Linked DNA regions of Homo sapiens: region 1 is linked to region 2. Evidence: fine-mapped expression QTL. A gene starts in region 2. The other region holds a variant in brackets. All regions are shown on one strand. Distances are between the middles of the regions.

Region 1 (5,375 bases), 57 kb before region 2:
TGAGCTGGGCCTAAAGAGGCCACTGGCAGGCAGGAGCTGGACCTGCCGAAGTGGCCGAAAGGCAGGAGCTTTGGACTGGGGAGGCCTCAGTGAGGCGAGAGCTAGCTGGGCGTGGAGAGTCCGCTGTGAGGCCAAGGCCGAGGCCAGGCCCGTGCAGGCCTTCGAGAGGCAGGAGGCCGGGCCTGCAAAGGCCGACTGGAGATCAAGTTCTGCGCCTGAAGAGGCTGCCAAAAGTCAAAAGCGGGGCCTGGGAAGGCCGCCGAGAGCCATGAGCTGGGCTGGGCCGAAAGAGGCCACTGGGAGGCAGGAGGAGCTGGGCCCGGAGAGGCTGCCAAAAGGCAGGAGCTTCGCCTGAGGATGCCACAGTGAGACACCATCTGGGTCTGGAGGGTCCACTGTGAGGCAGAGGCTGGCCTGTAGAGTCCGACAGTAGACAGAAGTTGGGCAAAAGGCTGATTTGAGGAAGTTTTGGGCTTCAACAGTCAGCCACGAGGCAGACACTAGGCCTGGAAATAGCCCGACAGTCATGAGTTGGGCCTAAATGGGCCACTATGAGGGAGGAGCTGTGCCTGTTGAGGCTCCTCCAAAAGGTCATCTGTACACACACAGTAAAAATCTGGGAGTAACTGAAGACAGAGTTGGTAAGTAAAATAAGAAACAGTTATAAGAAATTAAACTATGGTATCCATAGGCACCCGGTAAAAGGTCAGTTGATGTTAGCTGCTACTTTTTTGTTGTTTAGAGACAGGGTCTCACTCTGTCACCCAGGCTGGAGTGCAGAGGCCTGATCATGACTCACTGCAGTCTCAGCCTCCCTGGGCTCAAGTGATCCTCCCACCTCAGCCTCCCAAGTAGCTGGGACTACAGGAACATGCCACCACACTAGGCTAATTCATGTATTTTTCTATAGGGATGGTGACTCCCTTTGTTTCCAAGGCCTATCGCAAACTCTTGGCCTCAAGCCATCCTCCTGCCTCAGCCTCCCAAAGTGTTGCGATTACCAGTGTGAGCCACCACACCTGGCCAGCTGCTACTTTTATCAATATTATTATTATTCCACTCAATTAAAAATTATTATTTTCAAGGCTATGCAACAGTATGTATCCTACAGCGTAATTGTAAAAACATATACAGTCGTCATCCCTCAGTATACAGAATTAGTTCCAGCCCCCCATCTCTGCATATACCAAAATCCATGCTTACTCACGTTTCGCTGTCACCCCTCTAGAATCCACGTATACGAAAATTCCAAATGTTAGTTGGGCATAGTGGCAAGCACCTGTAGTCTCAGCCACGTAGGAGATTGAGATGGGAGGATCGCTTCAGCCTGGAAGGTTGAGGCTGCAGTCAGCTGTGATAGCACTACCACACTCCAGCCTTGGACAAAAGAGGGAGACCCTGTCTCAGAAAAAAAACAAAATAAAACAGGTTAGAAATTGTAATCTAACCCTAAGCCTAACCCTAACCCTAACCACTAAGCCTAACCCCTAACCCCTACACTAACCCTAACGGTAACCCCTAACCCTAACCCCTAACTCCAAACCCTAACCCTAACCCCAAAACCTAACCCTAACCCTAACCCCAAACCCAACCCCAACCCGAACCCCGAACCTGAACCCTAACCCTAACCCCTAACCCTAACTCCTAACCCTAACCCCTAACCCTAACCCTAACCAATAACCCTAACCCTAACCCTAACCCTAACCCTAACCCTAAACCCTAACCCTAACCCTAACCCTAACCCCTAATCCTAACCCTAACCCTACCCTAACCCCTAACCCTAACCCTAACCCTGATTATTCAGGGCTGCAAACAGAAAGGATTTTGTTCACCGTCGATGCTGCCCTGAGTTGTCCCAAAGCGAGGCCGTGCCCCCAAGGTGTGTGCTGAGAAAGCTGCTCCGCGTTTTTGGTGTCCCCCGGGTCTGTGTTAAGCAGAACGCAGCTCTGCCCCCGCAAAGGCACCCCGCGCCGGCGCGGGCACGCACAGACTGACGCGACGTGCGCGCGGGAGGCGCGGTGGATGCGCAGAGAGCACGCCGCCGGGCGGGGGTTGGGGTGGCGTGGTGCAGGAGCACAGTCGCACGCCCCTGTGCTGGGGGTGGGGCGCGGTGCAGGCGCGGAGACGGGTGGAACCTCAGTAATTCGAAAAGCCGGGCTCGACCGCCCCCTGCTTGCAGCTGGGCACTACAGGACCCGCTTGGTCACGGTGCTGTGCCAGTGCGCCCCCTGCTGGCGACTAGGGCAGCTGCAGGGCTCTGTTGCTTATAGTGGTGGCCAGCGCCCCCTGCTGGCGCCGGGGCAATGCAGGGCCCTCTTGCTCACAGTATAGCGGCTGCACGCCGCCTGGTGGCAGCTAGGGACATTGCAGGGTCCTCTTGCTCACAGTGTGGTGGCAGCACACCCCCCTGCTGGCAGCTGGGGACACTGCCGGGCCCTCTTGCTTGCAGTGCAGTGGGGGCACGCCCTCTTCTGGCCCCTGGGGGCACTACAGGAACCTCTCGCTCACAGTGTAGTGGCAGCACGCCCCCTGTTGGCAACCAGGGCACTGCGGGGTCCTCTTGCTCATGGTGTGGTGCCCGTATGACACCTGCTGGCAGCTAAGGACACTGCAGGGCCCTGTTGCTCACAGTGTAGTCGTCGTACGCCACCTGCTGGCAGCTGGAGACACTGCCTGGCCCTCTTGGTGGCAGTGTCGAGGCAGCACGCCACCTGCAGGCAGATGGGGACTAGGCAGGGCTCTCTTGCTCCCAGTGTGACGGTTGGCGTCCCCTACTGGCTGCCTCCTGCACCACTTAAAGTCAGAGCATCAGTTTTTAAGCCCCATCAGTTCTGTAAATTCAACTGAAACGGAGCTAGTACTAGGGAGAGCTGATGTCCCAGTTCTTGTCTAACTTGGAAGAAAGATTTTCACCAAGAGGCAGTACAAAAATGGGAGACAACTTCATTGAAAAGAAATACAGTGTAAAGAGCTCATTGTAGAAAAATAGGGAGGAGTGGGCTGAT[C/A]GTGCATGAAAACATCCTAGGAGTCCTGTGCAGGGAATTTTATTTTGGACTTCTTCACATTCCTGCCTCTGTCTCAAGTCTCCACCTGTTCTCTTTGTCTGGTTTTCCTGCTACTGCCTTAGGTCCCCGACTTGCCACACTTAGGCTTGTGGGACCTCCTCACTGTTGGTTGAGGTACATGTGTGGTGATCAATCCGAATCCACTCTGGCACCAGCCTCCTTCCCGCCATCCCAGGCAGGCTGACAGCGGTCACGTTTGTACCCAGTGTGCCTGCCTATCTCTTTTGAATGTCCTTCTTTGCCCTAATCTGCACTTAGGGTGCCAGGTTTCTCTTAAGAATGTCCCCTTTGTCCTTCTTATCAGCATGTAGCTACCAATATTCTGACATTTTTATTGCAGAGTGAATGATGGTTGGGGCATCTTAAAGAGAGTTCTAGGGTTTTTCTTTCTGCATAGGTACCTCTTCGCACTCCTACCCACAACTGACAAGTGCCCATCCACTCCAGCACTAGAGATGCTACTAATATGTGCATTTTTGGTGGTCCCTCCAGGTGAGCCTTCTCAGACTTTCCCTTTTCCAGGAGCTCCCCCTCCTGTTCATGTCTAGCTATCTATCTCCTCTAACAGAGCCCACTATCCTGTGTGTTTCCCAAAAATAGTGATGGAAGGATTAATTGGAAACCATAGGAAATGATATGCATGTAGATGAAAACTTTACAACTTACACAAATAATCACTCAAAATCATCCTTACACTAAAAATGCAAAACTATACCATTTCTAGAAGAATCTATAGAAGAAAAGCTATGTGCCTTTGGGTTTGGTAATGAATTTTAACAAATGACACAAAAGGTTGATATACACAGAAGAAATGACAATGTGGATTTCTTAATATTTAAAGTTTATACTCTGGAGAAGACCTTGTTAAGATAACAAAAAGACAAGCCACATATTGAAGAAAATATTTGCAAAATACAGATCTGAGAATTTGTATTCAAAATATATTTAAAAATTCTTAAAACTAAACAATAAGTTAAACAGCCCAATTAAAAAGGCACACAGATCTCAACAGACATCTTACCAAGGAAGATCTACAGATGGCAGGTAAACATACAAAAACATGCTCAACATGCTAGAGAACTGAAAACCACAATGAGATAGCACAGCTGGTCTGCATCTCTTAGAACTGCTAAACTCTTTAAAAAATGACAAATTGCTGGAGGAAAAACAAGAACTCTTTTCATTGCCGGTGGAACACAGTGTATAAGACCAAAATATGCCACCCCAAAATATAATGGTAGGAAACCAGAATATGCCACCCCAAAATATGTCCCTTTTGCTTAAGAATTATTCCAAGCTGATTATTTTGAAAAAAAAAAATGCTAACAAAGGAAGTTCTGAAAACAGAGTAGAAGTTACCCTTGTGTAAGGGAAATTTACATCTATAAAGGAAATCCCCATTCAAAAGCTACCTCTCTCAACACCAAGAAGAGAAGGATAACTAAATCACTAAAGAGTCTTATCAATGGAGACTGCATGGACTTAAGTCTGTATAACAAACCTTACCCTTGTCTACTGTGCTTTTGCTGGCTAACTCCCCACTACTGCACCTCAAATCTTCTTTCTTTAAGTTCAACATAGTATTTATGCTTGAATTGAAAGCCACCTGTTGGAGATTTACTCATTTTGCCCTGAGTATCTCCCATGTATCCATAAGGTATACATGTTTTTAAACTTTTCTGTTTTTCTCATTTTAATCTGTCAGTTTTTACAGAGGGTCCCATCTCAGAATTCCAAAAACATAGAAAATTATTTTTCCTCCCCTATTACAAGTTGGGCACTTTTTTCCAAAGCTAAACAAGTTTCACCTTACAATCCAAAAATCACATTCCTAAGTATTTTGACAACTACTTTGATGCTATTTCCAAACAAAAGCTACCATGCAATTATTTACAGAAGCCTTATTCATAATGAACAAAGGAAAAAAAAGGAATCAGAAAGTCTTACAATAGATGACTGTGTGGGAATCCACTCAGACATCAAAAGTTGTTATAAAGATTATTTAAATGAAAGCATTTGAGATACTGAAGATAAAGGAAGAAATCTTAGCAGAACTTACTTTATCCAGTTAAAGCAGAGCTCCCAGAAAAATACAGCTGCCATTAACCCCATCCAAGGAGTTTCTTGCAAATTCAGCTGCCATGAAGACAGCGTACTCTTTCCCATTAGCAATGATAAATGAAAATGAAATCCTAAGCTCCCAACTGACTGAACAGACCCACTCTTGGCTGAGGGGACCCAAGAGTAAATTTCAAAACTGAGTTCTCAGCTTTGCTAGCATTTGAGATTGTGATGGTTGAATAAACTAAT
Region 2 (5,375 bases):
TACAGACAATAACTCAGATGAATCTCATAGGCATTATTCTAAGTGAATGAAGCCAGGCTTGAATGTTACACACTGTATAATTCCAGACTTGAAAATAAAAAACCAATAGTGACAGAGAAAAGCCCTGTGTTTACCAAGGGAGTGAGGTGGGGTCAGGTGTGAGTAGAAATCGGTAGCTAAGGGAGCTTGTTGGGCTGGTGGAACTTTTCTGCATGCATTGTGGTGGTTACACAAATCCACTCCCTGTGCTAGAATTCATAAAACCCGCACACTCCACCACTGACCTCCACAAAGCCAAATTTACTGTGTAAAAAGTAAACAAACAAACACAACCCATATGAGTCCACCTCAGACCTAAACATCACAATCTCTAGGGAGGTGGGGCTGAGCTGATGGCTTTTCCTAACAAGCTCTCAGTGGTTCTCATGGACACTACGTTTTGAGGACCACTGGCTGGCATCACAATGGGGGTGAATGTGACTAGGAGGTTCTATCAAAACATAGAATGTGCCTACCCTCCACCCAGTGCTTGAACATCCCTTCCCCCTCATCACTCCGGGGAAGGATCCTGCTCAACACCCAACTACTCATTCAAACCTGGAACCCGAAACTTTAATGAAGGTTGCTCTACTGAGATTTTTCTCCCCACCGAACATGTCTGTGACCCACAAAGAAGCCCATGAAAGAAAGTGCCCAGAGAAACCAGAGCTGTGGAAGGCTGGCTCGACGGTGCCCCTCACTGCCCCTGAGAAAACAGACCCATTTCCTCTCTGCCCACCTCTTTCCCTGACATGTCCCCAGCAGCAGTCCTGTATTCCCAGTTCCTCTCAAGATGTTCTGAATAGTCTCTGGGTATCCTCTCATTGCCTTCAACTCAAGATATCTAAAACCAAAACTCATTGTCTTCCCACTCAAAACGTCCTCCCCTTTCTGCTGCCAACCCCAGTCAGTATTGTCTGCAGGCTTCCAGGCTTGGATCCTTGACTCACGGCCACCCAAGCTTCCTTCCCCCGTGTGCGATTAGTCAGTAAGTCTTAGTAGTGATGAGGGCTTCCTGCACCGTGACTGTCCGGCATGCTTTTTCCTCTCCCATTTCCTCAGCCACCAGCAATTCCAGGCCCCTCTTTACTTCGTATGTATTCTAGCGAGATCAACTGGCAAGACAAAGCTCAGACGTCACCTCCAGAAGGTTTTCATGGCTTGTGATAATCTGGCTTCACCTGTATTCTACTTCATGAGACAACTGACTATCTCGTGGCCTCTTCCCTGTGGCCTCCATCTCTCTTTGCAGCTCCAGTCCCTGGCACATGCTTGGCACACAGCTCACTGCAGCTGCTCAATGAGTTTTGTGGACTGGATGTTTGCTTGTGGGAAGTGGAAGCAGGGACCAGATGGATGGGCAGAAGGATTGTCCTATTCAAATATGCACTGGTGGTCCTGTCTTGTGTTTGGGCACCAGTTGAATCCAAGAGCTCTCAACCTGTGGAGTGTCGGATGAAATCTATGGAATCCCTCCTCAGAAAAGCAAATGAACCCACACAATGATGGCGCAGTTTCATTGTCATCAGCCTCCTGAGGCGTATCCACAATCACCAGGTCAGAAAACCCTGCTCCTTCCTTGCATTCAATTGGGCACATCACTATCAAATTAATTTTTCTGAAACACGACAAAATCTCATCAGAAATATACCACACTTTGTTGTCCCAAATGCTTGCCACCAGAAGTGTTTTGTATTTCAGATTTTTTGGATTTTGGAATCTTTGCATTATACTTACCAGTTTGGCATCCCTAATCCAAAACTCTGAAGTCAGATTAGCGATATTAAACCTGTACTAAGGAGAGCAATTCTGAATTTTTTGGCTTGGCAGCCACGGTTATTTTTGTGCCCCTCTAAATATACCTACTACCTACTATCCCCAGTGTGTAATCAGGCCATTGATGCCAGAGAGAGGTGTGAGTAGAATGATCACCAGTAGTGCCTGCCCTGAGAACGTGGCCACTGGTGCCCAGAGCAGAGTTGTCTGGGGACTGGCTGGAGGCCCATAGAGAGGCCCACACAAGAGCTCACCTGTGTTGACCAGCTCTCTTGCGTGCTCCAATTCCTATGCTGTTGCCTTGACTCAGCATGTGGTTCTCAGTGGGGTGATTCTTCCCTGCAGGTGACAAGTACTAATGTCTGCACACATTTACAACTAGGGAGGGAGTGCCACTGGCATTGAGTGGGTGGAGGCCAGGGATGCTGCTGAGCTTCCTGCATTGTACAGGACAGCCCCCACCACAAAGAACTTTCTGGCCCCAAGTGTGCATAGAAAAGATCCTGGTCTGCAGAGCCCTGTCCACCCATGGTCAATCCTGAAACTCTCCTTTGAGTCCCCCAGACTTTCCTGGGCCCTCCGGTCTTGCAGGATCTTCTCTTTCTTTCACACCTGTCCTTCCTGGGCAACATTTCTCCCCGACAAACCAGCGCCTGACCCTTGAGCAGGTCTCACCCAATCCTGCGCTTGTTTTAACCATATCCTTAGTTAGGTTCTAAGGTCATTGCGGGCAGGGAGGTTCATTTTCCTATAGGCCTGAGCACAAGGTCAGCGTGTGATAAATATGTGTTGACCCTCATAGATCCCTGAAGCACAGAATGAAAAATAAAATTGCTTAAATTTACTGATTTCAGGATATGGGAACAAAGGAATTGTGTTTAAATGTAAAAAAGAAGTTCTAGAATTTCCACAGAATTTACATTCTTCTTGTTGTAAGGAATATGCCTGGTAATGGAACTCAAATATCAGCTTGGATCGCCCTGGCCTTTGAAATTTGAGGTAAAATTAGGCTTAAGCCGTATCCAGCGCACAACAGAAACCTCAGTGTCTCCCACCCAGGGACTGTCTCGGAGGCTGTGTGTTCAGATGTCACTTCTGCCTCCCGGCATCTGCTCCTGAGTTTTCACTCTTCAGCCTCCCCTCCCAAGGCCTCCTTCCTACCCTGGCACTGGGCTTCTTGCCCCGTCCCCCTAGAATCCGTGGCACAGGGGCTTTATCTGTGTGGAGTCTCTACAGACGGTTAGAAACACAGAGTCAGCTAGAAATTAAGCAGTAGGCAGCTGTGATGTTTTTTGACAGCCTCATTTCTAAAACCCCTTCAGCAACCCCAGTCAAGGAGCTTCTCCCTCTAGACTCCAGCCTCCTGCTGAGTCACCTGCACCGTCTCTGCCTTCCTCCCCTTCCTCACATCCTCCCTGGCCCCATCTTCCAATTCCTCTGAACTTCTGCAGAGCAGCCAGCTCTTCCTCCAGCTTCAACTTCCCCACCCCAAGCAGGTGGGGCATCCTGACCCTGAGCAAAAGCAGTTCTCTCCCTAAGAAACACCGGTGACTTTTGTTCATGGCACTCCATGGATGCAAAGCTCTGAGTTCTGTTGAACAGGGACTCACCTACGAGTGGTGGTGCTATCAGCTGAGACGGGAAGCAGCACTCAGTAGAAGAAGAAAAGGCCTGGACTGGTGTGGGCATGCACTGGCTCGTGAGAAGCAGGGAAGGTCGCTCTTATGGGTCCCGTTTCTAAGTGACGTTCACGGCCTGGCTGTGTGTTGTCCAAGTGTTTTTCTTTCTTACCAAACCTTGGAGGTCTGGGAGCACCATATATGTCACACATGTGGGCAGGACTGGCCGTCGGGGCCGATGGGAGCTGCCTGGCGCACAAGTCCCTGGGGATGCCCATAAGTGCCTCACGTTGGCACTGAAGAAATGCAGACAGTGTGCCGCTTTGGGGAAGGCTTGTTGTTGCTGACTTTACACACACACACATATATATATACATACACACACACATATATACACATATATATGTATGTATACAGAGTGCTATAAAGTTATTCTTATTTTGTGAGTGATACAACCTTATTATTTAAAAATTAGGAAGAAAGTTAAAAAGAGGGTAAAACTCATATCTCTTCATGAGAAATGATCACTGTGACTATTTCAGCATACTTCCTCTGGCTCTGAGAAGAATCTTTAGGAAATAAGGAGCTTTTCATCTCCAGGGAGATGCCAGGGTCAGTTTCACCCCAAGGCAAAACCCTTCTCATTTTATGGGGCCAGATGCTGAAGATCAGAAACAGTTCGATCCTGCCCCGAGAAGGTGTCCGCCTCATCCTTGGAGTTAATGTGGCCACTTCCTAGGCAACTCAGAGGCTTTATGGGTCCTTTCGCCTCTTAAAATTAATTGAGTTATTCAGTAAATACAGGTTAAGCATCCCTAATCCAAAAATACAAAATGCTCCAAAACTGTTTTAGTACCAAAACGACCCTTAAAGAAGGCACTCACTGGAGCGTTTTGGATGTTGGATATCAGATTAGGGATGCTCAGCCAGAATGAATTCTGCAAATATTCCAAAATCAAAAAAAATTTGAAATCTGAAACACTTCTGGTTCCAAGTATTTCAAATAAGGGACACTCAACCTGCACTTAGTGAGTGATGCCAGGGAGTGGTACCAGTCACTGTTCTAGGCACTGAGGGTGCGTTGGAGACAAAGTGACAGCAACGTCCATGCTTCTTCCTCGCAGAGGACAGAGCCATGAGGAGGGAGAGTCTCTTCACTTCTCTGGGCCTTAGTTTCCTCCCCAGGCAAATAAACTGAGGAGGCTGTACCCAAATAAACATCGTCAGAGCTTAGGGGAATCATGTGGAGTGCCTGTTTGTCTTAAACACAAGCATTTCTTTAAGGTTCCTTAAAAAAAAAAAAGAAAAGAAAAGCTAAAAATGTTAATGACCTCTGCATTTTATTTTCTGGTATGTCCAGGTTTTTTGTTTTTGTTTTTAGACAGAGTTTTGTTCTGTCGCTCAGGCTGGACAGATCACGCAGTGGCATGATTTTGGCTCACTGCAACCTCCACCTCCCGGATTAAGTGATTCTCCTGCCTCAGCCTCCTGAGTACCTGAGATTACAGGCACCCACCATCACAGTCAGCTAATTTTTGTATTTTCAGTAGAGATGGGGTTTCACCATGTTGCCCAGGCTGGTCTTGAACTCCTGACCTCAAATGATCTACCCGCCTCAGCATCCCAAAGTGCTGGGATTACAGGCATGAGCCACTGCTCCTGGCCATATGTCCAGGTATTTTTAAATATAAAAACAAAATTTGGCCAGGTGCAGTGGCTCATGCTTGTAATCTCAGCACTTTGTGAGGCTAAGGTAGGCAGATCACCTGAGGCCAGGAGTTCGAGACCAGCCTGGGCAACATGGTGAAACCCCGTCTCTACTGAAAATACAAAAATTAGCCAGGCCTGATGGCCCATGCTTTTAATCCCAGCTACTCGGGAGGCTGAGGCAGGAGAATCACTTGAACCCAGTAGGCGGAGGTTGCAGTGAGCCGAGATCAC

The links. PIP is the estimated chance that this variant, and not a neighbour inherited with it, causes the effect.
Region 1: its variant is fine-mapped to the expression of LINC03066 in caudate (GTEx, PIP 0.97). The same link has a PIP of 0.9 or more in nucleus accumbens and prefrontal cortex.

What each region holds. Positions count from the first base shown.
Region 1 is chr6:146,193-151,567 of GRCh38, forward strand. It overlaps the pseudogene SEPTIN14P6. Among named protein-coding and RNA genes, the nearest start is that of LIRIL2R, 32 kb to the right of the region's middle. The variant C/A (reference allele first, on the strand shown) is at 3,006.
Region 2 is chr6:202,818-208,192 of GRCh38, forward strand. It overlaps LINC03066 (long intergenic non-protein coding RNA 3066), which reads right to left and starts at 2,667. Exons shown (of 8, transcript NR_126020.1): 1 at 2,070-2,667.